4 separate regions of the Homo sapiens genome follow, and regions 1, 3 and 4 are each linked to region 2. Evidence: fine-mapped expression QTL. A gene starts in region 2. Each other region holds a variant in brackets. All regions are shown on one strand. Distances are between the middles of the regions. Region 1 overlaps TRERF1 (transcriptional regulating factor 1). Region 2 holds the start of TRERF1 (transcriptional regulating factor 1). Region 3 overlaps TRERF1 (transcriptional regulating factor 1). Region 4 overlaps TRERF1 (transcriptional regulating factor 1).

Region 1 (5,146 bases), 78 kb after region 2:
TATTTTTTAAAAGTTAGCTAGAGGAGGCCAGGTGCGGTGGCTCACGCCTGTAATCCCAGCACTTTGGGAGGCTGAGGTGGGCAAATCATAAGGTCAAGAGATTGAGACCATCCAGGCCAACATGGTGAAACCCCGTCTCTACTAAAAATACAAAAATTAGCTGGGCGTGGTGGTATGTGCCTGTAGTCCCAGCTACTCGGGAGGCTGAGAAAGGAGAATCGCTTGAACCCGAGAGGCAGACGTTGCAGTGAGCTGAGATCACGCCACTGTACTCCAGCCTGGCGACAGAGTGAGACTCTGTCTCAAAAAAAAAAAAAAAAAAAAAAAAAGAATTAGACGAAAAGTCATGAAGGTTTCAACATTTAACCCTCTCCCCTCTGCCCTTCTGGGTGTTGATTCAGCACAGGAGCAGCCTTCTGCCTTCCATGTGCATCTCCCTCTTACTCCTGTCTCTCCCCTACCCCAGCCACAGATCATCTCTCAGACATCCCTCACGCAAAGCCTGTTTTCCAGGAACGATCCTCTGGAAGCATTCATGCTAAGCGGATATGTGGCTGCTAAGACTTAGCCTCTCCAAGGCATTTGCATATTAGCTTATAAAAGGAGAAACCTTTTAGGTGAGAGGAATGAACGTTTAATTTTAGAATTCCAAGTAAGAGCAAGCATGTGTGAAAGGTTTTTATTTTGTTTGGGGTGGGAGTGCTCAGTGCCCTGGAACTGGGGGTGGCCAGGCCCCCTTCACACTGATTGGGCTGACCCCAACATCTGGGGAGCTTGGTGGTGAGTGGTAGGCCGAGAAACATCCCCTTCAGGACAAGCAGTTTCCCCCAGACCCAGCCACACCGCCTTCACATTTCCTAAAGGGGGGACATTGTGACTTGTGAGGCTGCCAGGAGGAGACAGCTTCTAATCGGGTTTCATTTCTTCTGTTTAATGTGCTTGGTTTTTGAATCAAGGGGGCCCCATTTGAGACAAGCCCCTTGCCTGGTTCTTATCTGCTCTGGCCCCTGTGAAGTTCACTTCTGCTTGCCCTTGTCCAGGGGTTCTCCAGGCTCCCACTTCCCTCTTTACACCTCCTGCACCTTCCCTCTCCTTCCCCATAGTGATCGTGATCACAGCCCCCCATAGTAATCACAGCCGCAGTCTTCAAGACCAGTTTAGTTCAGGCTTCTTCACCCATCTTTGAGAATCCTCTTTAGTCAGTCAGTGTGTAGCCTTCCTCCTTCATGTTCTTCGTGGTCCCTGGACCCTGAGACTTTTGTCTTAATCGCCTTTGGAACTTTAGTGCCTGGCATGGTGCTTGGACATAGTAGACACTTAATAAATGCTTTTGGACTGCACAAAACCAAGGCTGTGTTTGGCCCTGTGAGGGCATGAGGAGCAGCGAAATCAGCAAGAGAGGTGACGAGACAGCTGTCAGCCTCAGGCATTTCTTGCTAAGAGAGGAGGAACTAGCATTTGTGTGGATAAAGAAGAGGCTCCTCTGAGCTTCATGTGCATGGGATGATGAGCAAAGGGTGGCTCCGGAGCTGCTCCACAGAGCGGTGGCTTTCATGGAGTATCCAATTCTGCAGGATCTCTTGGATTTCGGGCTTGCATCTTCAGCCAGAAGGCATCTTCATGAACAGGTGTTTATGAAGTGCCTACCATATGCCAGGCACCCATCTAGAGCCTGTGACTTTGTTGGCGCCCCATTGTGTGATGGACTTGGAAGAACACAGAAGGCCCTGCCTGGGCTGGGACAGTCGCTTTACCCTGAGCTTCCTGGGTTTCTTCCAGCTTCCAGGGGTGTTAATTTCCCGTATAATTACTTTTGGGCAAAACACATTGGTGCTTATGTCTTTTTTTTTTTTTTTTTTTTTGACAGAATCTTGCTCTGTTGCCCAGGCTGGAGTGGTGCAACCTTGGCTCACTACAACCTCCATCTCCCAGGTTCAAGCAATTCTCATGCTTCAGCCTCCTGAATAGCTGGGACCACAGGTGCACGCCACCACACCCGGCTAATTTTTTGTATTTTTTTAGTAGAGACAGGGTTTTACCATGTTGCCCAGAGTGGCCTCGAACTCCTTAGCTCAGGCAATCCACCCATGTCAGCCTCCCAAAGTGCTGGGATTGCAGGTGTGAGCCACCACACCTGGCCAGGTGCTTATGTCTTAAACACTGCCGTTCACATTTCTACCTCTGAGGAGATGGTAGGGGGTGAGGGTAGGACCGGGCTGTCCTCTCAGCCCCATCTATCTGGTAGGTGGATGTAGGTCTTGCTCTGTCAGTCAGAGCTCTGGCAGGAAATGACTGGTACACACAGAGGGTTTAACTGGAGAGGACTATTTACAGATGTGTGGGCATGGTGAGGGAAACCATCTAAGGCTGGTGAGGCTCCCCAGAGCTGACAACAGTGGGAAGCTATTACCTCCCCTCGGCCAGAAGGAAGGAGCCCCAGGGATGGGTAGAAAGGGCCTCGACAACAGCTGTGATGGTGACGAGACACAACCACTGTCAAACTGTGGTGAAGAGGAGGAAGGGGGAATAAATGCTCTCACTTTAACTAAATCCAGCTGGAAGCCCAGAGAGCCCAGCTGATATAGCCAGTGGTCCAGGAAGGGCAGAGAACAGAGTGTGTAGGGGCAAGCTGCACACACCCGCCCCCGGCTGCCTGGGCATTCTAAGGCTTAGCAGGCTCTTCCCCTTCTTCTTCTTCTTCTTCTTCTTCTTCTTTTTTTTTTTTTTTAAAAAAAAGACAGAGTCTCACTTTGTTGCCAGGCTGGAGGGCTATGGTGCCATCTCGGCTCACTGCAACCTCCGACTCCCTGGTTCAAGCAATTCTCCTGCCTCAGCCTCCTGAGTAGCTGGGATTACAAGCACGTGCCACCACGCCCAGCTAATTTTTGTATTTTTAGTAGAGACAGGGTTTCACCATGTCGGCCAGGATGGTCTCAATCTCCTGACCTCACGGTCTGCCCACCTTGGCCTCCCAAAGTGCTGGGATTACAGACGTGAGCCACCACGCCCGGCCTTTTTTCTTTTCTTTCTTCTTCTTTTTTTTTTTTGCTCTTGTTGCCCAGGCTG[G/A]AATGCAATGGTGCAATCTTGGCTCACCGCAACCTCTGCCTCCCAGGTTCAAGCGATTCTCCTGACTCAGCCCCCTGAGTAGCTGGGATTACAGGCATGTGCCACCACGCCTGGCTAATTTTTTTTGTTTTTTTAGACGGAGTCTCACTCTGTTGCCCAGGCTGGAGTGCAGTGGCGCCATCTCGGCTCACTGCAAGCTCCGCCTCTGGGGTTCATGACATTCTCCTGCCTTAGCCTCCCGAGTAGCTGGGACTACAGGTGCCCGCCACCACACCCAGCTAATTTTTTGTATTTTTAATAGAGACGGGGTTTCACTGTGTTTGCCAGGATGGTCTCGATCTCCTGACCCCATGATCCACCCGCCTTGGCCTCCCAAAGTGCTGGGATTGCAGGTGTGAGCCACCGTGCCCAGCCTAATTTTGTATTTTTAGTAGAGACAGGATTTCTCCATGTTGGTCAGGCTGGTCTTGAACTCCCCACCTCAGGTGATCCACCCACCTGGGCCTCCCAAAGTGCTAGGATTACAGGCGTGAGCCACCGCACCCAGCCTCTTCCCCTTCTTAGGTGACTCAGGATGTGCCCAGTCCACCAGTGCTCCCTTCTTCACAACACTGTGGCTGTTAGAAAGAAGAAAGTGCCCCGGCCACACCAGCAGGATGGCCACTGGTATTTTGACTGTAGCAAGAATAACAAATTATATTTATTGACAGCATTTTATGTGCATCCTCTCATTAAATCTTTACAACAACCATAGCATGGGTACCCTGATTATCCTTGTCTTCATCCTGTTACTGAGGAAAAATGTGGAGCTGAGAGAGGTTAGCAAGCTACCCAGTTGCTCAGCTAGCCAGAGGTAGAGTTGAGCTCAGACCAATTCTGACGTGACTCCCGAACACACACTCTTACCCTTTGCCTGACTCAGGGTCTCATTCCTCCGTAGTGGGGCCCCACCCACCCTGTGGTCAGTGCCACGTGTGTGCTGGCCCACTGCTTGGGATGGTCTTCCTACTTCCTCTCCAGTTGACCCCATTGAACCCATTTTTTGAGACCCAACTCAGATCTCACTTCCTCTGAGACCTTCTCATCCCTCTCCATCTCTCTATTAGGCATCAGTGGCAGGCGATTCTCTGCCATCCCTTGGGATGTTGTCTGGCTGTTTTGAGTGTGCGCATCTCCAAAGTCTCCAATGAGAATCCAGCTTTCTTAGGTGCGAATCCTAGGTCGTGAGTTTTCTTTCACTCAAAAGGTTTAGTTGAAGAGACTTTAAGTTAGTTAGGGGGAAGGGAACTGACTGGGAGGATACAGCACCCAGAGACTGGACTCTAAGTGGTCACAGGGGAATGGTCCTGTGGGGGGAAGCCATTGCCACTCTGAGGCCTGAAGGAACTCCATTGGAAAGAACTGTCCCTGTAGCCCAGTGAGAGCCGTAGCTGTTGGACAGAAGCCTCATGTAGGAGCTGATGGGTTTGAGAACTGGCTTTCTACTTGGTTAGTAAGAGCTCAACAAAAGCCAACAGGGAGGACTTTCTTTAAGGCAAATGAAGAACAGAAGCTAGAGCTGACTCTAGTAGGAGCTTACAGTCTAGTTGAGGGGTTTTTGTTTTTGTTTTTGTTTTTTGAGACTGAATTTTGCTCTGTCACCCAGGCTGGAGTGCAGTGGCTTGATCTCGGCTCACTGCAACCTCTGGCTTCTGGGTTCAAGTGATTCTCATGCCTCAGCCTCCTGAGTAGCTGGGATTACAGGCACCTGCCACCATGCCCGGCTAATTTTTGTATTTTTAGTAGAGACGGGGTTTCACCATGTTGGCCAGGCTGATCTCGAACTCCTGACCTCAAGTGATCCACCCTCCTTGGCCTCCCAAAATGCTGAGATTACAGGGATGAGCCACTGCGCCCAGCCTTAGTTGAGATTTTGAGGGAGGGAAAACAGGCACATACCTCCTACTTAAACAGAACAGTGCTGCTACAGGGCAAGATTTCCCCCTGAGCAGATGAGCTTGCCATATACAAGCACAATGTGGGGGGACATTTAAGGAGACAGAATTGCCAATGGCTTCTTTCTTATAGGACAGGGGCTGAA
Region 2 (5,146 bases):
TTGACCTGGGGCAATTAACTTAACTCTCCGAATAGGTTCCTTATCTGCCCCGGGGAGGAGTTTTAGATTAAGAGGGTGTGTGTGTGTGCTGGGAGGGAGGTGGAGGGGCTGAGTTTTCTGGGTGGTGCGGTTTTCCCAAGTCCCGTTTTGAGGTTTTGTCCTAGCCAGCTCCCGCTCAGGTCCCTGGGCGGTGACGGTGGTCAAGCTTAGCTTGGCTGTTCCTCCTCCGCTTGGAAAAAGGCCGCCACTGGGGCCAACTCCGGCCACAGCGCTGCTGCCAGGAGACCTAGGGTAGGTCTTTTCCCCTGAGGTAGAGACCTGGGTGTACCCTCAGGAAGGCATCTTGAAGTTACTGACAGTTGAGTCAAATCTTGAAGGTCCAGCAGGAGTTAGTAAGAAGAGGTGGAAGGGGAAAGGTTAGGCGCCCCCTCCTCCACCCCTTGAACAAAGAAAGCTTGACGGGGCTTACAATATCCGAGGAAGAGCTGGGCGGGTAGAGAGGTCTGTAGAGGCGAAATCACAACTTGGCTTTATTCTAAGGGCAATGGAAGAGGGTTTTGAAGGCTTTAAAATAATGTCATTAGGAGTTTTAGTCGCTTGGGAGGAATGGGTCGGAGGGGGACAGGAAGCTATCGCAGAAAGCAGCCCACTTGGAAGATGACCGAGGACTGAGGAAAGAGGGCGGGGGACATCGAGCATCTGAAGCCTTTCCCAGTCGCCGCAACACTGTGCGCTGTCCCTCGGCTTTCTTTGCTTATGTGGAAGGGCTCCATAAAGGGCTGGGCACGCGCCAAACGCTCATTAAGCGAAATAGCCCGGGTCCCCTCCTCTTTTCAGGGACTCTGTGGTCCACGTGCCCCAGAATTGGTAGGGTAGGCGGGAGGACTTTCCACTGCTGAAGATGGAGAACCGTTACCCCTCAAAAAACACAAAAACCTCGGGTGCTTTTGGCAGCAGTCTCCTCCGCTCATGACCTCATGCTTTAAGCTCCCATATAGCCTCCCTCCGCCCAATCCACACCCAGCGCCCGGGTGGGGGTGGGGTGGGGGACACTGGCGAAGGTCTGGGTAGCGGGAGGTCATTCTTCTTGCGCGACATTTTGGGGGAAGGGGCGCAATGATTTCCCCCACGGAAAAAAATGGATGGTGTAACTTTCTGTCGTGCAAAAAATACTGTCTTGCCCTCGAGACAGATGCCTCGAACCCGGCTCGAGGTGGTCTGTTTAGCTGAACTACCTTTGGTTCACGTTTCCTCTGACCAGGAAAGAAGCTTGGAAATGCAGGGGTCTCAGGCCAGGTTCCCTGACACCTGGGCCGACCACTGCCACGCCTTCTCGGGACCTGGGGGCCGTCCTGCTGTTGCCCTCCGCCCCCGCCCGCGCCGCGGAGGTTTGAACCTTCGGCTCGCCTTTCAGCCCGCGCCCTGCCCCCTGCTCGCAGCTGCTCCCGGTTTGGGTGCAGCGGTTTCCCCCGCAGAGGAGGAGGAGGAGACAGCGCGAGGGAGCGACTCCGGGCTCGGGTTTCCGCACCAATGCCGAGCAGCCCCGGGCGGCCCCCGGTGGCCGTCCCTCCTCCCCGGCACCACGTTCCACAGTCATGGCGCGCGAGGAGGGGCGAGCGCGCGCGGCGGCTGCACCCGCGCCCCCTCTCCTCCCCTCCCCTCCGCCGCCCGGCCCCTCTCCTAGGCAACCCCCCTCCCCGGCCTGCTGCGCCTGCCGCGGCAAGGGAGACCCCTCCCCAGAGAGCTGCTCTTCCAGCGCGGTCTACTGCACCCCTTCCCCGCCCCCATCGGGGCGGAGGGATGGAGACGCGCGCTTCGCGAACCTCCAGCCCCTTCTCCGGAGCCCCAGCCCTCTCCCAGCCCCACCGAGGCCAGGGTGCGGTGGGGGTAGGCGCGGACCGTCTCCTCGCAGCCCGCCTCGACCTCGGCATCTTTGCAAACACTTAGAAAAATAAACAAACCCCCTCACAAACCCCAGTCGTTAGCTTGCAAAGCGTGTTACAATAACCGGGACGGCTACGCAGGAAGCAATCCTGCACTGGTCCGGGTTTAAGGCGGCAGCTTCCCGGCCACGCTGCCTTCTCCCCGGCCTCGATTTTCCGGCCATGCCGGAGGGTCCGCTGCACCTCAGGGCTGACAGGTCCCGCTCGCGCAGGGCCGCAACTGGGCCCGTGTCCCCCGTCCCATCCTCGTCCAGAGACTCGCCAGCCTACAAAAGGTGCAACCTCACGCACACGCAAAGCGCACAAATAAAGTCAGCAGCGCACCGCCGCGAAGGCTGCGAACAATGCGCCGGGCGGCCCGCGCCCGCCGTAGCGCTGCGCCCCGGGGGAAAGGGGACGCGGGCGGGGGCCGAGGCGGACGACCAGCCGGTCGCGGCGCTGGACACCTTACTTCCTGCTTCCCCGCCCGCGGCCAGACCCAGCTCTGCGGAGGGATATCTCCCCTCCTCGGTCCCTCTCCCTCCCTTCCCCCTCCCTTCCCCCGCCCTCCCCCTCTTTTTGCTCCTGCTCCCCCCCCCCACCCCGCCTTTCTCCTTTTGCAAGAAAATAATTTGACAGTCGATTTGCTGACAAGGGAGGAATTTGCATCCTGGATTTAAAAAAAAAAAAAAGGCCGAGAGGAGCTTGGGAACGGTTGCTAGGGGTGGGTAATGGGTGAAAAAAGGGGGGTACCGGGGAGCGGATAAGGAGGGTTAAGGGAGGGGGCGAGGATGGGGAGCAATGCAAAGGTAAGGCCAGGTTACCGCGGCTCGGCCCCGAGTGGGCTGCGACCGGGGGAGGGGCGAGAGATACATATGTATTTCTGTCTCCCCAGCACACCCCCTTCCCTCTAAGCGATGGCTGAGAGGCGGTGCATGCAGATGGGGAGTAAGTTTCCTGAAGGGGAGGGTGGATGCACGCGCGCAGCCCGGCGCTGCAAATTTCCACTGGGGAGGGAGAACGGCTGGATGCGGAGAGTTTGGAGTTGCTTGCGGCGGAGGGCAGGAAGGGGAGCAGGGCTGGGAAAGGGGGCTGGCGGGCGCTATATCTGGGAGTAAGTTTCCAGCATCAGGAGAGCCTGCACGCTTGCTCACTAGTAAGTTTCTGGCCGGGGAGGGCGCATGGGGAGGAGGAGAGGGAGGGGTGCATGTATATAGAAGGGGGGAGGGGGGAGCAGATTTCCTGCGGGGAGGCTGAATGCATATGGAGAGTAGATTTCCTGAAGGGAGGGTGGAGGCGTAGACGGACCGAGTAAGTTTCTTGCTGGGGTGGTGGAGGAGGTGGTGGGTTGGTGCTTTGGAAACCCAAAGCTTCCTACCCTGGGTGGGGGAGCACACTCTTGTCGGGGGGACGAGGGGCCAGGTTCCCTGCTGGGGAGAGGGGCTTGCATCTGGGGAGTATGTTTCCTGGCGGAGCGATATTTGTTTACAGGCTGAGGGCAGTACAGTAAGTGAGTAGCGCTGAGAGAAGGCGGCTGACATAAATTAATATTGAAATTACTCCATCAGCTCTGCTCGCCCCCCATCTCACCCCCCAAGCGGATACTGGTCTTCTCGTCGGATTGCCCATGCACTTGTTGCAGAAACAGCCAAGGTAGGCAAGAAGCTTATTAAGTTTCATTTTTAAAAAATTAGTTTGGGGATGCTCCTCGAGAAGACGGGGGTGGGGCGAAGTGGGGAGGGAAGAGTGGGGAGACAGAAGGAGAAGTCTCCCCCCCCTTTACTTTCACTATGCAAGCAGGCCTTCTCCCTTCTTCCCTTCTTCCCTCTCCGGGCTGCACAGCATCCCAGCAAAGGGGGAGGGATGAGGTGGGCGCTATAATTGGCAACCCTGGCTTAAAGGTAGTGATGGTGGGCTTGCATTTGAGGTTGTGATGTTATAAAGGCTTCATTCTCCAGCTAAGAAACCGCAGGACTCTGCCTTTTGGGGTTTTTGACATGATACATATGTGTATGTATACGCGCCTGCGGGCTCTGTGGGGGCTGGGTACTCCCCAGAAGTTAGTGTGGCCACCCAGATGGGAGAAATGTGTAAGGGGGTAAACCTGTTCCTTCACTCCCCAACTTCAGTTTGGGAGACTGGGAAGTTACTGCCGGTGGTCTTAAGAAACAGATATTAAAAACCAACCAAACCACTCCTTCACCAGCGGAGGCCGAGAGCACCTGGCAGGCAGCCTCTGGCCAGCACTGGACTGGAGCATGTGCGCCTGCCATCCTTAGGTTACAAGAAAACGCTTTCTGGTTCCTCCGTGTGTCTTCTACCGGCCTGTTAGAGCCAGCTTTGTGGAAACTCTTCCCCAGACTAGACGCAGCTTTGGCAAGTGCCAGTACTGAAGGGGATGGCTTCAATTCAGCATGGCCTGGGCTGTCTTGTGAGTGCGTGGAAGTCGTGCTTAGGAATGACCGCCCCTGTAGTGGCTAAAGAGTTCATTAAAAAATATCTCCTGAAAACCGGTCCAGGTGCACTTTTCAGCAGGTCATTGAGGAGAGTTTTAAGAAGGGGAGTTTTAAGTTGTCCCAGTTAGCACCCACCTTCTGCATCACTGACCCTTTTAAGAAAGGAGTTTGGCGATAGGAAGTGTGGTGTTGATGCTCACTGACTGGAGAGGATAACAGCAGGAGTCCTCAGTGCTTAACTAGTTAACCAGCAGCCTTTGCCTCTCCTTGCCTCTGTTTTCTTGGTCCTCAGCCTACTGGTTTCTGCAGAAGAGTTGTAGGTCTTAGCTGTCAGCTACCTTGATGATGCTGGGAGTTTTAACTTTGCTAGGATAATTTTAGCATCTCGGGTCCAACCCGGAGACGTTTAGTAGGGTTAGGGAGTAGCCACTAGGCAGTGGGGTTAACTGAGGTTGGTTAAGCTTTCTGCAATTCTGTAGACAGGCTCTGTTCTAGCAGGGTCGAGAAAAATGGGTTTTAAAAAACTCGCTACACATTGCTGATGGAGAGTGCTTTTTTTCTTTCCTAACTGTCGTCAGATTTCCAGATTGAGGGTTGATATTTGGCAGTTTGAGAGTTGAGTTAGTTGGGAATTAAATATTATTGCTGCTTATCAAATGTTCCTAACTAGGCATTAGTTAAGCAAATTAGCTATTATTTTTACCTGATGAAAATCTGAGTCTGGTTGTTGTATTTGCTGGGAGGGTAAACAAAATCTTTATGTATGTT
Region 3 (5,146 bases), 88 kb after region 2:
GCCAGCCTCCAAGAGGTGAAGGCTGACCTGGCTGACGAGGTCAGGATTTGATCGCAGGCCTGACTCCAGTGCTCCTGTGACTTCAGCTAAGTCCTGAGGAGTACAATGCCCCTTTGGTTGCCCCTGGTTTGGGCAGATCCTGATTTCTTATGGGGCATCTTGGTGACAGCATCCCCTTGAAACCTGTGGTTTTCTCTCAGCCCCATGTTACCCAGATCTGCCTGTCTGCCTGGGGTGATCAGATGGCCCTTGAGTGTTTTGCTGATTTTCACCTTTCCCAGGCATCTCCCTCTTGTGGCTCTGGGAATCCCAGAATTGTTAGATGGTGGTCCATAGCTGGTGATCGAAGTGGATCAGTCCAGCTCCTCATTTCCCAAAATAGAATATTCTTTTTCCTGCTTCTGGTTGCCCAGTCCTGACTGTTCTGCCAGTCACCATGAGCTTCTCCACACAGCTGGATTTCTCACATTTCAAGCTCTCCCTTGAAGAAGGAAGAAGAGAGTATATCTATCTATGTCTACAAAAGCATGTGAAAGGGTGGTAAAGGAAGGACACCAAGACCTTGAATATGCAGGTGCAGGAAGAGGAGGGAGGAGCCAAACCCAGCCATCCTCCTCCCCGTTAGAGTGGATGTTAGGAGGTGCCGGACTCTGGTGCCTCCTGCACAGGAAGAATAGGTATGCCTCCCAGCTTCAAGAAGGCCCTGTGTCTCTTCACTTGGCCATCTTGGTTCTCCTACATTTTCTGAAAAACTTCTGGAATCATATCACCTGAGCATCAGAATTGTTCTGTGGATCAAATAACTGAGACACTGTGTTGAGCAGCGGGCAGTTGCAAGCATTGTCAATACACGATTCATTGCCCTCAAGAAGCTGGCAGTCCACATGGGCACAGGGAGCTCTTGCCCAGAGAAGCTAGATGCAGTGAGCTCAGAAGAGCCAGGAGAGCTTGGTAAGCTGGGTTGGTGCCACCCAGCAGACTGCAGGAGAGGGCTGGAGCTGGGTGGCCAGAGGGCAGAGCTGCAGGGGAGGAATGTGCTGGGTGTTAGGACCTTGACGGGGTGCATGGACTGGGCAGGGGATTACAGATGGGGTGAGCAGAGGTACGCATGGGAAACAAGATTGAAGAAGGAGATGTGCACCATTTATGAAGGATCCCAAGGGATGGCTGTGGAGCTTGGAATGTTCCTGTATTGAGGAGCCTCCAAAGCCAAAGCATGGAGCCGGGATTAGTAAATGCAATGCTGTAAGAAGATCCGTCTCGATTTGTGAACTGTAAATGGGCAGTGCTGGGAGGTAACTTAGGAGACATTTATCATGTCAAGAGTTAGGAATGAAATGTTGAGGACTTGGACTAGGGTGGTGGTAGTGTATGTAGAAAAGACGAGAGGGAAGTGGAAGGTTTCAAATCTTAGCTCTGCCACTTGCTACCTGTGTGCCCTTGAGCAAATTACTTCATCTCTTTCAACCTGTTTTGTCATCTATAGATAGAGGCTAAAAACACTTCACAGGACTCTTGTTTGAGGATTTTAACTTGTAACACACCCAGCACTTAGTAGGTGCTCAAGGAATAATGAATCTTCTCATGCGGGAAGAGGCATGGTTTTGTGACTGGGAGGGATTAGGGGAGTGGAGTATGAGGTTCTGAGTCTGGGAGCCCGGGAGAATGATGAAGCCTTCACAGAAAGAGATGGAACTGCTTGGGGCCTTTGAATTCAGCTTTAGGAACTTCTCCTCCTAAACCCTGGCTACTGAGGGCTGTCACAGAAAACCCCACATCCATGCAGATTGTGCCTCTACGAAACCACGGCCTCTGGCTAGAGCAGGGCCCTCTGGGATACTGGCCAGCAGCTGGCTGTCTCCAGTCAGGGTGTGGACTAGGGTGAGAGAGTAAGCCACCTAGGGCAGAAACGTCAGGAGGTGCTGGGTTTCAGGGCCACGCCCGCACTTGATACCCACAGTGGGACGTGCACCCCAGCCTCCTCTCCTGTCTGCCCTTCACCACTCAGGAGACAACCTGGCTTCTGTGTTCACTGAAAATATTACTCCACGGCGAGCCCACTCAGGTTCCCACCTGCCCTCCTGTGTGCTGACCTGCATCTGGGCTCGTTCCCACCTGGTTTCCTTGCACTCAGAGAAAGAGACATCCTTCCTCCTGGCCAGAGAGAACCCTCTCCCTGGACAGGGATCCCCATGCTTCCTGCGGCCCCTGGGACCTCACGCCTCAGTCCTGCAGCAGCAACTTCCTCAGCCCTTCACACCCCTCAGCCTTACCTTCTCTTTTCTCCTCCCCTTACAGATGGATGTGTGGAAATAATCTGCCTTCGCTAACATAGCCCACGCAGGCTGGCCTCCACTGGTGGGGGCTTATGCCTGGTCCAGAGCAGGGACCCGGTGGGTTTGCTGCAGAGGCCTCCTGCCTTCTGCAGGGGCTGCCCTCTCTAAGGTCACCCACGGCTTCCATGTTGCCACACACAACGGACACTTCAGTCCTTATCTGTCTGGGCTCTTTGCTGCTTTTGACACTGGACAGCTTCCTCCTTCTTGCAACTCTCTTTTCTCTTGGCTTCTTTGATTCCATCATACAAAGTCTTTCAACAGCTATTTCTTGAGCACCTACTATGTGCCAGGCTCTGGGCACACCATAATACGATGTCCCTGCTCTCAGGGAATTTACAGTCTAAGGGAAGTGGGGAAAGGGGGATGAAAAAAATAATAAATGTCAGGTGGTAATAAGGGTTGCAAAGAGAAATACAACAGGGAAGGAGGCTAGGAAGGGGGCCGGGGTTTGAGGTGGGCCTCACTGCAAAGGACGTGAGAGCAGAAACCTGTAGGAAGTGACAGATGCCTGGGGGAAGAGTGCTCCAGGGATGGGGAAGAGCAAGTATGGAGGGCTGAGGCAGGAGCCTGCCTGGATGTTTGAGGAAGCCATTGTGGCTGGAGGAAATGGAGGAAGGGCAGAGTAGGAGGAGAAGAGGTCAGGTGTCTCAGTCCATCAGGGAGGAGGCCCAGCCAAGTCATGTGGAC[T/C]GTGGCCATTTCAAGGACTTTGGCTTTTACTTTGATACAGATGAAATACTACAGGAGTGTTCTGAGCAGAAGAGTGATTTTTAAATGATCACTTAGGCTGCTCTGGGGAGCATGCTGTATTTGTTAGCTTGGGCTGCTATAACCAAGTACCACACACTGGGTGGCTTAAACCACAGATTTATTGTCTCACAGCTCTGGAGGCTGCAAGTCCAAGATCAAGGTGTTGGCAGGGCCATGCTCCTCTGGAGACTCCAGGGAAGGGTCTGTTTCGGGCTCCTTTCCAACTCTGGGTAGCTTCTTGGCTTGTGGCAGAAAACCTCCAATCTTCCAAATATCCCCTTTTTATAAGGACACCAGAGTCATTTTGGATTAGGAACCCCCATCCTACTTCAGTAGGACCTCGTCTTAACTATTTATATCATCAATGACCCTGTTTCCTAATATGACATCTTCAATGACCCTGTCTCCTAATATGCCACATTCTGAGATCCTAGGGGTCAGGATGTCAACATAGGAATCTTGGGGAGACACAGTTCAACCCCCAAGACATGGTTATAGAAAGGTGAGGGGAGGAGTGGGACAACTAATTAGGGGGTTATCACAATAACCTAATGAGAGATGCTGCTTGCTTGGACTAAAGTGGTACCAGTGGAGGTGTCGAGAAACGGTGAGGGTCTGGATATTACTTTACGTTGAAGCTGGCGTCCTTTGCTGATGGATTAGACGTGGGGTGTGAGGGAAAGAGGAAAGCCATGATGACTTGGGTTTAGAGCCTGAATAACCAGAATGAAGTTGAACGTCTTGGTCTCCTAAGTCCTCTTCTCCCCCGGGACCTTCCTCAGCAGCCTTTGCTGGGTCCTCGTCCTGGGTGGGCCCATCAGCTGCTGGGTTCTTCAGGGCTCCATCCCAGGTCACTCCTCCGACCTCTCCCTGATTGATACTCACTGTTCCCATGCTGAAGCCAGATGTCCTGACTGTGCTCTTTGGGTCACTCCTGCAGGCCCTGGCTGTGGAGAATGCTGAAGGAAGAAGACGCAGAAGCAGGACGACCCTGAAAGATTCAGCCTCTTCATCCTCAAACAGGTCGCTTCTCGGGAGTTCTTGGTGTTGGAATATTTTACAGCAAAGCAGTCGTAAGACCATTTCTTGGACCCATATGGTGTGGAGAATGCCCCAGGAAGTGGAGGAGGGCTGCTCTGGGCCTGGACATCCATTAATTTCTAGAAAATTTTCTCTGGGAAATGGTCAGGGATTGTGGATTCACATAATGGTTTTTGGCAGCTTCTGGAATGGGGCGGAGGGTGTCTCTTGATTTTGCAGAGTTGTAAATAGTTGAGGATCCAATGGATGTCCATGGATGGTAGTTCTAGAAGTGTTTAGAAGGATTTAAAAATGTCTGGGATGCAGTGGAGGTGTAGAAGGCCACTGTGGGAAGCTCCACAGAGCCTGCCAGAGGCGGATTGCTGGACTCAGGAGCCTTAGCTGGCCCTGGGGCATTCCTCGCGTTTTTATCAGGTCTGGCCTCATGATCCCTTCCATTCTCAGTTTGTCCCTCCATAAAATGGGCATACAGCTATGATTCCTCTGCCGGGCCTCCCACAAGCTGTTTCAAGGGTCAGTAGTTTGTGCATAAATAGAATTTTAAGCTTTTATTTCAGGTGTAAACCCTGATCCGGCAAGAGATGGCTCCATCCTCCACACATTCTTGGCGACAGTGGGGAAGGGGGGTGGTATCTGATTTGATTATTTCGGTGTGTGTGGTTTTGTTTTCTTGGCATGTGCCACGCTTTCCATTCCTCCTGTATGAGGCTCAGAATTGATTGCTTCGGTTTCTTTTTTATTGTGCCTGATTCTGATTTAATTTTAAAGCCATTGTGTCTCGGGGTTCCAGTCGGAAACACGTGGCTCGTGCAAATGGGGTAATTGAAGAGCGTCTACTGAAGGGAGTCTTTATAAGGATGCAGGCAGAGTTAAGAGAAGCCAAGAAGGGATGCTGAAGCACCCAGGGCCAGCAGTGTCAGGGAGCTGTTACTGTGCCTGGAAGGAAGAGGGAGGGACTGGCTGTCGGGATGGGAAACAGGAGCTGGAGAGGTGTCCCTGGTAGAGGAATGCAATCAACC
Region 4 (5,146 bases), 140 kb after region 2:
GGAGGCTGAAAAATCTTACATTTTGATGCATAAATCACAAACATCTACATGGTACATAAACAGATATAGAGTATATCTGTGGTGTGAAAATGTCATGGAGGAAAGTAATTAGGGAAAAAAAATGTCTAAAAAGTCCCCTTAGGAGGGCAACAATGAAGAAAAGGTGGAGAAACACTGCCACAGGCCTATGAGGACTCTTCATTCAGGTGGAAGGGAAACAGAAGATGGAGAAGGCTCACCTGCTTCTTAACCACCTTGGCCCAAAAGCGATACAAGTTACTTGGCCCACATTTCATTGGAGAGAACTGGTCAGGGAGTTCCACCTTGCTGCAGGAGGAGATGGGAAATGTAGTCTCTGGCTGGCCACACTTCAGAGTACTTCTAAGTGAGGACTCTTAGCCAAAGAAGGGAGAGCATCTATTTTGGAGGATGGTTGGCCTCCCAATACAGGAATCAAACAATGTTGTCTTCAAGGACCAGGTACTACATATTTTGGGCTTGCAGCCATGGTCTCTATTGCAGCTACTGAACTCTGCTTGTTGCAGCTGAAAGCAGCCATAGATAATACTGAAATGAATGGGTGTGGCTATGTTCTAATAAAGCTTTATTTACATAAACAGGCAGCGGATTGGCCTTCAGGCTGTAGTTGTCCAGCCCCTGAGTATCCATTCTGGAGCCTTTCAGTTGTCCACATTACCTCTGCTTCTTGGGACCTAACCCACATTTCCTTTACTTCCAGTGCCTAACTAGAGCCTGGAGCTTCCTCTTAACTGAATGAAGGGTTCGTCTTGGCTGTTTCACTGAAAACAGTGGAATATGACCCTCCACCAAGTGAAGTGTAGAGATCCCAAGACTGTAGAAAAGAAAGAAATTTTGTCTATGTCAGTCCAATGTTAGCCCTCCCCACAGCCACCCTACATGGTAGGGGTAGAGTGCCTGGCACTCATTATTAAGTGCTCAGAAATTTCCTGTATTCAGTGTTGGGGGCTGGTTTAAAACTACTTGTATTCAGCGAAATAAGACCTTGGAGAATATGGACCTCTATTTCTTGTAGCGTTAGAGTGGATTATTATTCAATGGTTAAAACTAGTATTTACAAAGAGCTTTTTTTTTTTTTTGGAGACAGAGTCTCGCCCTGTTACTCAGACTAGAGTGTAGTGGGGTGATCTCGGCTTACTACAACCTCCACCTCCCAAGTTCAAGCGATTCTCCTGCCTCAGCCTCCCAAGTAGCTGGGATTACAGGCGCCTGCCACCACGCCCAGCTAATTTTTGTATTTTTAGTAGAGACGGGGTTTTGCCATGTTGGCCAGGCTGGTCTTGAACTCCTAACCTCAGGTGATCCGCCTGCCTCGGCCTCCTGAAGTGCTGGGATTACAGGTGTGAGCCACCGTGCCTAGCCTAGAACTTTTAACAACATGACAAAATGCTTATTTTATAAGCAGGATTCAAAATTATGTATACAATATAATCTCAACTATATCTTAAAAAGTTTAGCAAAAAAAAAAATAATTCTCAACAAGTGATGGAGTTTTTCTTCTTTTTATTTTGTATCTGTTTTCTAAAATTTTTACAGTGAACATGTTTTAGATGTGGAGAAGACTGTTATTTTAAAAATTATTGAGGTCTGGGAGCTCACGCTTGTAATCCCAGCACTTTAGGAGGCCAAGGCGGGAGGCTTGCTTGAGCCCAGGAGTTCAAGAGCAGCCTGGGCAACAAAATGAGACCCTGTCTCTATAAAAAATTTTTTAATTAGCCGGGGATAATGGTGCGCACCTGTAGTCCCAGCTTCTTGAGAGGTTGAGGTGGGAGGATTGCTTGAGCCTGGGAGGTTGAGGCTGCAGCAAGCCATGATCATGCCACTGCACTCCAGCCTGGGCAACAGAGCAAGACTCTGTCTCAAAACAAACAAACAAACAAACAAAAACTACTGAGGAGGAAATTAGTGCTGAGTGAGGGTATAATTACCCAACAGGTTCTTCCTTCCTCCTGCACAGACAAAACCAATTCACTGAGACCACAGTATTGTAGTAGACAAACAGTTTAAGGCAGAGCCAGCCAAGCAGAAAGACTGGAGTTATTACTCAAATTGGTCTCCCAGAGAACTCAGAGGCTAGGGTGTTCTACGGATAATTTTGTGGACAGGGGAATG[G/A]GAGCTGCTGATTGGTGAAGGTTGAAATCGTAGGGGTGTGGAAAATGGTCCTTGTGTGCTGAGTCAGCCTCTACATTAGGGGGCCACAGGACAGGTTGTCATGAGTCCCAGGTCCAGGTAGAGTCAGATGGTTGCCAGAATGCAAAAGTCTGAAAAGCATCTCAAAAGACCCATCTTAAGTTCTACAATAGTGATGTTATCTATAGGAGCAATTGGGGAAGTCACAAATCTTGTGACCTCTGGCCACATGACTCATGAGTAGCAAGGGATTATAAAAAGGCAAGCTGGGGGCGGTGGAGGGGAATGGCTGGTTATCCTTTAGCTACACCTACATGTTAGCAGAATTCAGGCCCCTCCCATAATCCTAATCTTGTGGCCTTTCATTACCAAGACAAAGGCGATTTTGGTCCCTGAGCAAGGAGGGGGTTCGTTTCAGGGAGGGACTGTTATCATCCTTGCTTCAAAGTTAAAACAATAAACTAAATTCCTCCCATGGTTAGCTTGGTCTACACCCAGGAATGAGGGAGGACAGCTGGCTTGTGAGGCTAGAGGCAAGATGGAGTCAGCCATGCTAGACTCCTGTCACTGTCATAATCTTTGCAAAGGTGGTTTCAAGAGTATTAATGAAGGTGTCTGCCTGCTTGTGCACACATAAGCAGGCACCTGAAAATGCCATCCAAAATTTTGTTAGAACAAAGTCACTATGAGGCAGTCCCCTTCATCTGTCCTCCCCAAGTTAGAAAAGCTTCTTTGGATAGTGACCAGGAAGGGTTCTGACCTGCCTCTACATTGAGGCATTTTTCTCATTTCTTAGTAATGAGACCCTCACCTAGATTTTCTTTCCACTGAGGCAGACCAGCCTCTCTGGATGAATCATCAAGATTAGCAATGCGGGGAGGAGGAGGTGCATGCTTGGGGTTAACTGCGTGCCAGAGTCATTGGTCATCACAGCCACTTCCCCAGACCCATGGACTTTCTTGACTTTGGCGGAGAAATTAAATAACTTGTGACTCGAAATGTCATTTGTGTAGACCCATTAGCCAGGCAGCCTGACGTCCAGGTGCCCCCACCCCCAGTGGAGCAGAGAACAACTCATTCTGCAGGAAGAACCAAATCTGAGATCATCCCAAAACAGCCTCTTATTTTTTAGGCCTCCCTTGGGTCCTCATGTGCATCTTCCAGGTACCGTGAGGGTAGGTGTGGGGGTCCTCTCCCCTGAAAGGAGAGCACCCCCACCCAAGTCCCTCCTCTTCAGCCTCTGCCTGTGTTTCTGCTGGTGATGTCCTTCTTGAGCCTTGAGCTGTCTGCACACTGGTCCCAACCTGTGCCTTCCACACTGCTCAGACTTGCAGCGTTCTCCAGCCCTCAGACACTTCACTATGACGTTAGGGGGTGGCAGTGGGTGGGGGGGGGGGTGGTGTTCCTCTCCCCAACCCTGACCCAGGGGCCCCACCTGGTCTCTTGAAGGATATCAGCTGCTAGAAGACAGCCCGATGGCCCCCCTTCATTTGACCTCCTTTGTCTCTACTCCAGGAGCTCCCTCTTAGCTCCAAGTTAGGTTAGGGTGACCTCGTCACAGCCTCTTTGCCTCTACCCCTGCTTCTGTGCTCTAAGCGCCGATCCTAGCGCCCTTCTCTTTCATCCCAATGTGCCATACTCTAGACCTGGATGTGCCACGTGTAAGGATCACACTCCAGCAGGCACGAGGCATTAGAAAGTCCTTGGCATGTGCTTCTGTGAGCACCCAGACTTCTTACTGTGACTTGTGAGGCCCTGCACCAGGGTTTGTCAACCTTAGTGCTATTGACATTTGGAGCTAGTGAATTCTGTCTTGAAAGGGACTGTCCTGCACATTGTAAGATGTTTAGCAGCATCTCTGCCCACCAGGTGCCAATAGCACTTCCCTAGTCGTGACACAGAAATGTTTCTAGACACTGCCAAATGTCCTCTGGAAGGCAAAATCACTCCAGGTGGAGACCACTACCCTACATAATGGAGACCCCGTCCTACCACGCTGCCTCATCCCACCCACTGCACACCTGCCACATGCACGCTCATCCCTGCCAGAGCCACTGCACTCGCTGTCACCACTGCTGTGAACGTTCTCTCCTCACATCTTCATGCTTTGCTCATTTAGGTCTCAGCTCAACTGACACCTCCTTACCTTGGCCTTTCCTAAGCACCCTATGCGACCAACCTATTCGCTCCATCAAGTTTATACTTCTGTTTTGTTTTAAAATCACGTTTAGAATCTCTGACCTTGTTCCTACTGCTTTCCTCCTGGTTTTCACTGTCCCAGCCACACCCTTCTAATTCCTCAGTCACATCCGGCATGTACCCACCACAGGGCTCTTGCTGTTCCTCCTCCTAGAATGCTCTTTCCCCAGATCTCATTGTTCTTATTCCTTCAGGCATTTGCTCAGATGTCACCTTCTCAGAGAGGGCTTCCCTGACTATTTCCTACTTTGTTTTTTCCCATAGCATCTACAGCCATCTAATACACTATACACTTTAATTATAATAATTTTTATTTTCTGTTTCTCCCTATTAAAATGAAATCTCCATGAGGGCAGGGAGTTTTGTCTTCTTTGTTCACTGTTGCGTGCCAGTCACGGAGAACAATGCCTAGCATTGAGGCACTCGGCCAGTATTTTTTTAGATGCATGAGCTTAATTTTGCAAGGCTTGCTGGGACCTCTGCCCTAGTTTAACTGTGCACATTTGAAAGCATCGGGTGAGCTTGGCTTCTTGTTGTAAAACCAGGGATTTATGTTGATGAAGAGTTCGATCAGGGTAGACTCATACTCTAAAGCATGTTTTCTTGTGAATAGAGATGTTTACAAAGCACAAAGCAGTGAATTTGCTAATAGTTCTTTTTACTGGCATCAGCTAGGGTTCTGAATTTAGCTGAAGCTTATACTTACCATGCCATGGTGGAGGTTTTCATTTCCTAATATGTACATGCATTTGTCTAAAAGTAATTAGTTTGTCTTCAG

What was found. PIP is the estimated chance that this variant, and not a neighbour inherited with it, causes the effect.
Region 1: its variant is fine-mapped to the expression of TRERF1 in whole blood (TOPMed, PIP above 0.99).
Region 3: its variant is fine-mapped to the expression of TRERF1 in thyroid (GTEx, PIP above 0.99).
Region 4: its variant is fine-mapped to the expression of TRERF1 in whole blood (TOPMed, PIP above 0.99).

Annotation. Positions count from the first base shown.
Region 1 is chr6:42,371,720-42,376,865 of GRCh38, reverse strand. All of the region lies in intron 2 of TRERF1 (transcriptional regulating factor 1), which reads left to right. Among named protein-coding and RNA genes, the nearest start is that of TRERF1, 78 kb to the left of the region's middle. The variant G/A (reference allele first, on the strand shown) is at 3,067.
Region 2 is chr6:42,449,606-42,454,751 of GRCh38, reverse strand. TRERF1 (transcriptional regulating factor 1) reads left to right here and starts at 2,826. Exons shown (of 18, transcript NM_001395490.1): 1 at 2,826-3,078; 2 at 3,491-3,575. It overlaps LOC124900214 (arf-GAP with GTPase, ANK repeat and PH domain-containing protein 2-like), which reads right to left and starts at 2,392. Exons shown (of 4, transcript XM_047419627.1): 1 at 470-2,392. The coding sequence starts at 1,931. The coding sequence ends at 834. It overlaps LOC107986596 (a long non-coding RNA gene), which reads right to left and starts at 2,392. Exons shown (of 5, transcript NR_171668.1): 1 at 2,127-2,392; 2 at 470-535. RefSeq lists silencers at 1,372-1,811, 2,282-2,361.
Region 3 is chr6:42,361,960-42,367,105 of GRCh38, reverse strand. TRERF1 (transcriptional regulating factor 1) reads left to right here. Exons shown (of 18, transcript NM_001395490.1): 3 at 4,027-4,109. Among named protein-coding and RNA genes, the nearest start is that of TRERF1, 87 kb to the left of the region's middle. The variant T/C (reference allele first, on the strand shown) is at 3,027.
Region 4 is chr6:42,314,127-42,319,272 of GRCh38, reverse strand. All of the region lies in intron 3 of TRERF1 (transcriptional regulating factor 1), which reads left to right. Among named protein-coding and RNA genes, the nearest start is that of MRPS10, 99 kb to the right of the region's middle. RefSeq lists enhancers at 2,534-2,623, 3,214-3,273, 3,342-4,009. The variant G/A (reference allele first, on the strand shown) is at 2,152.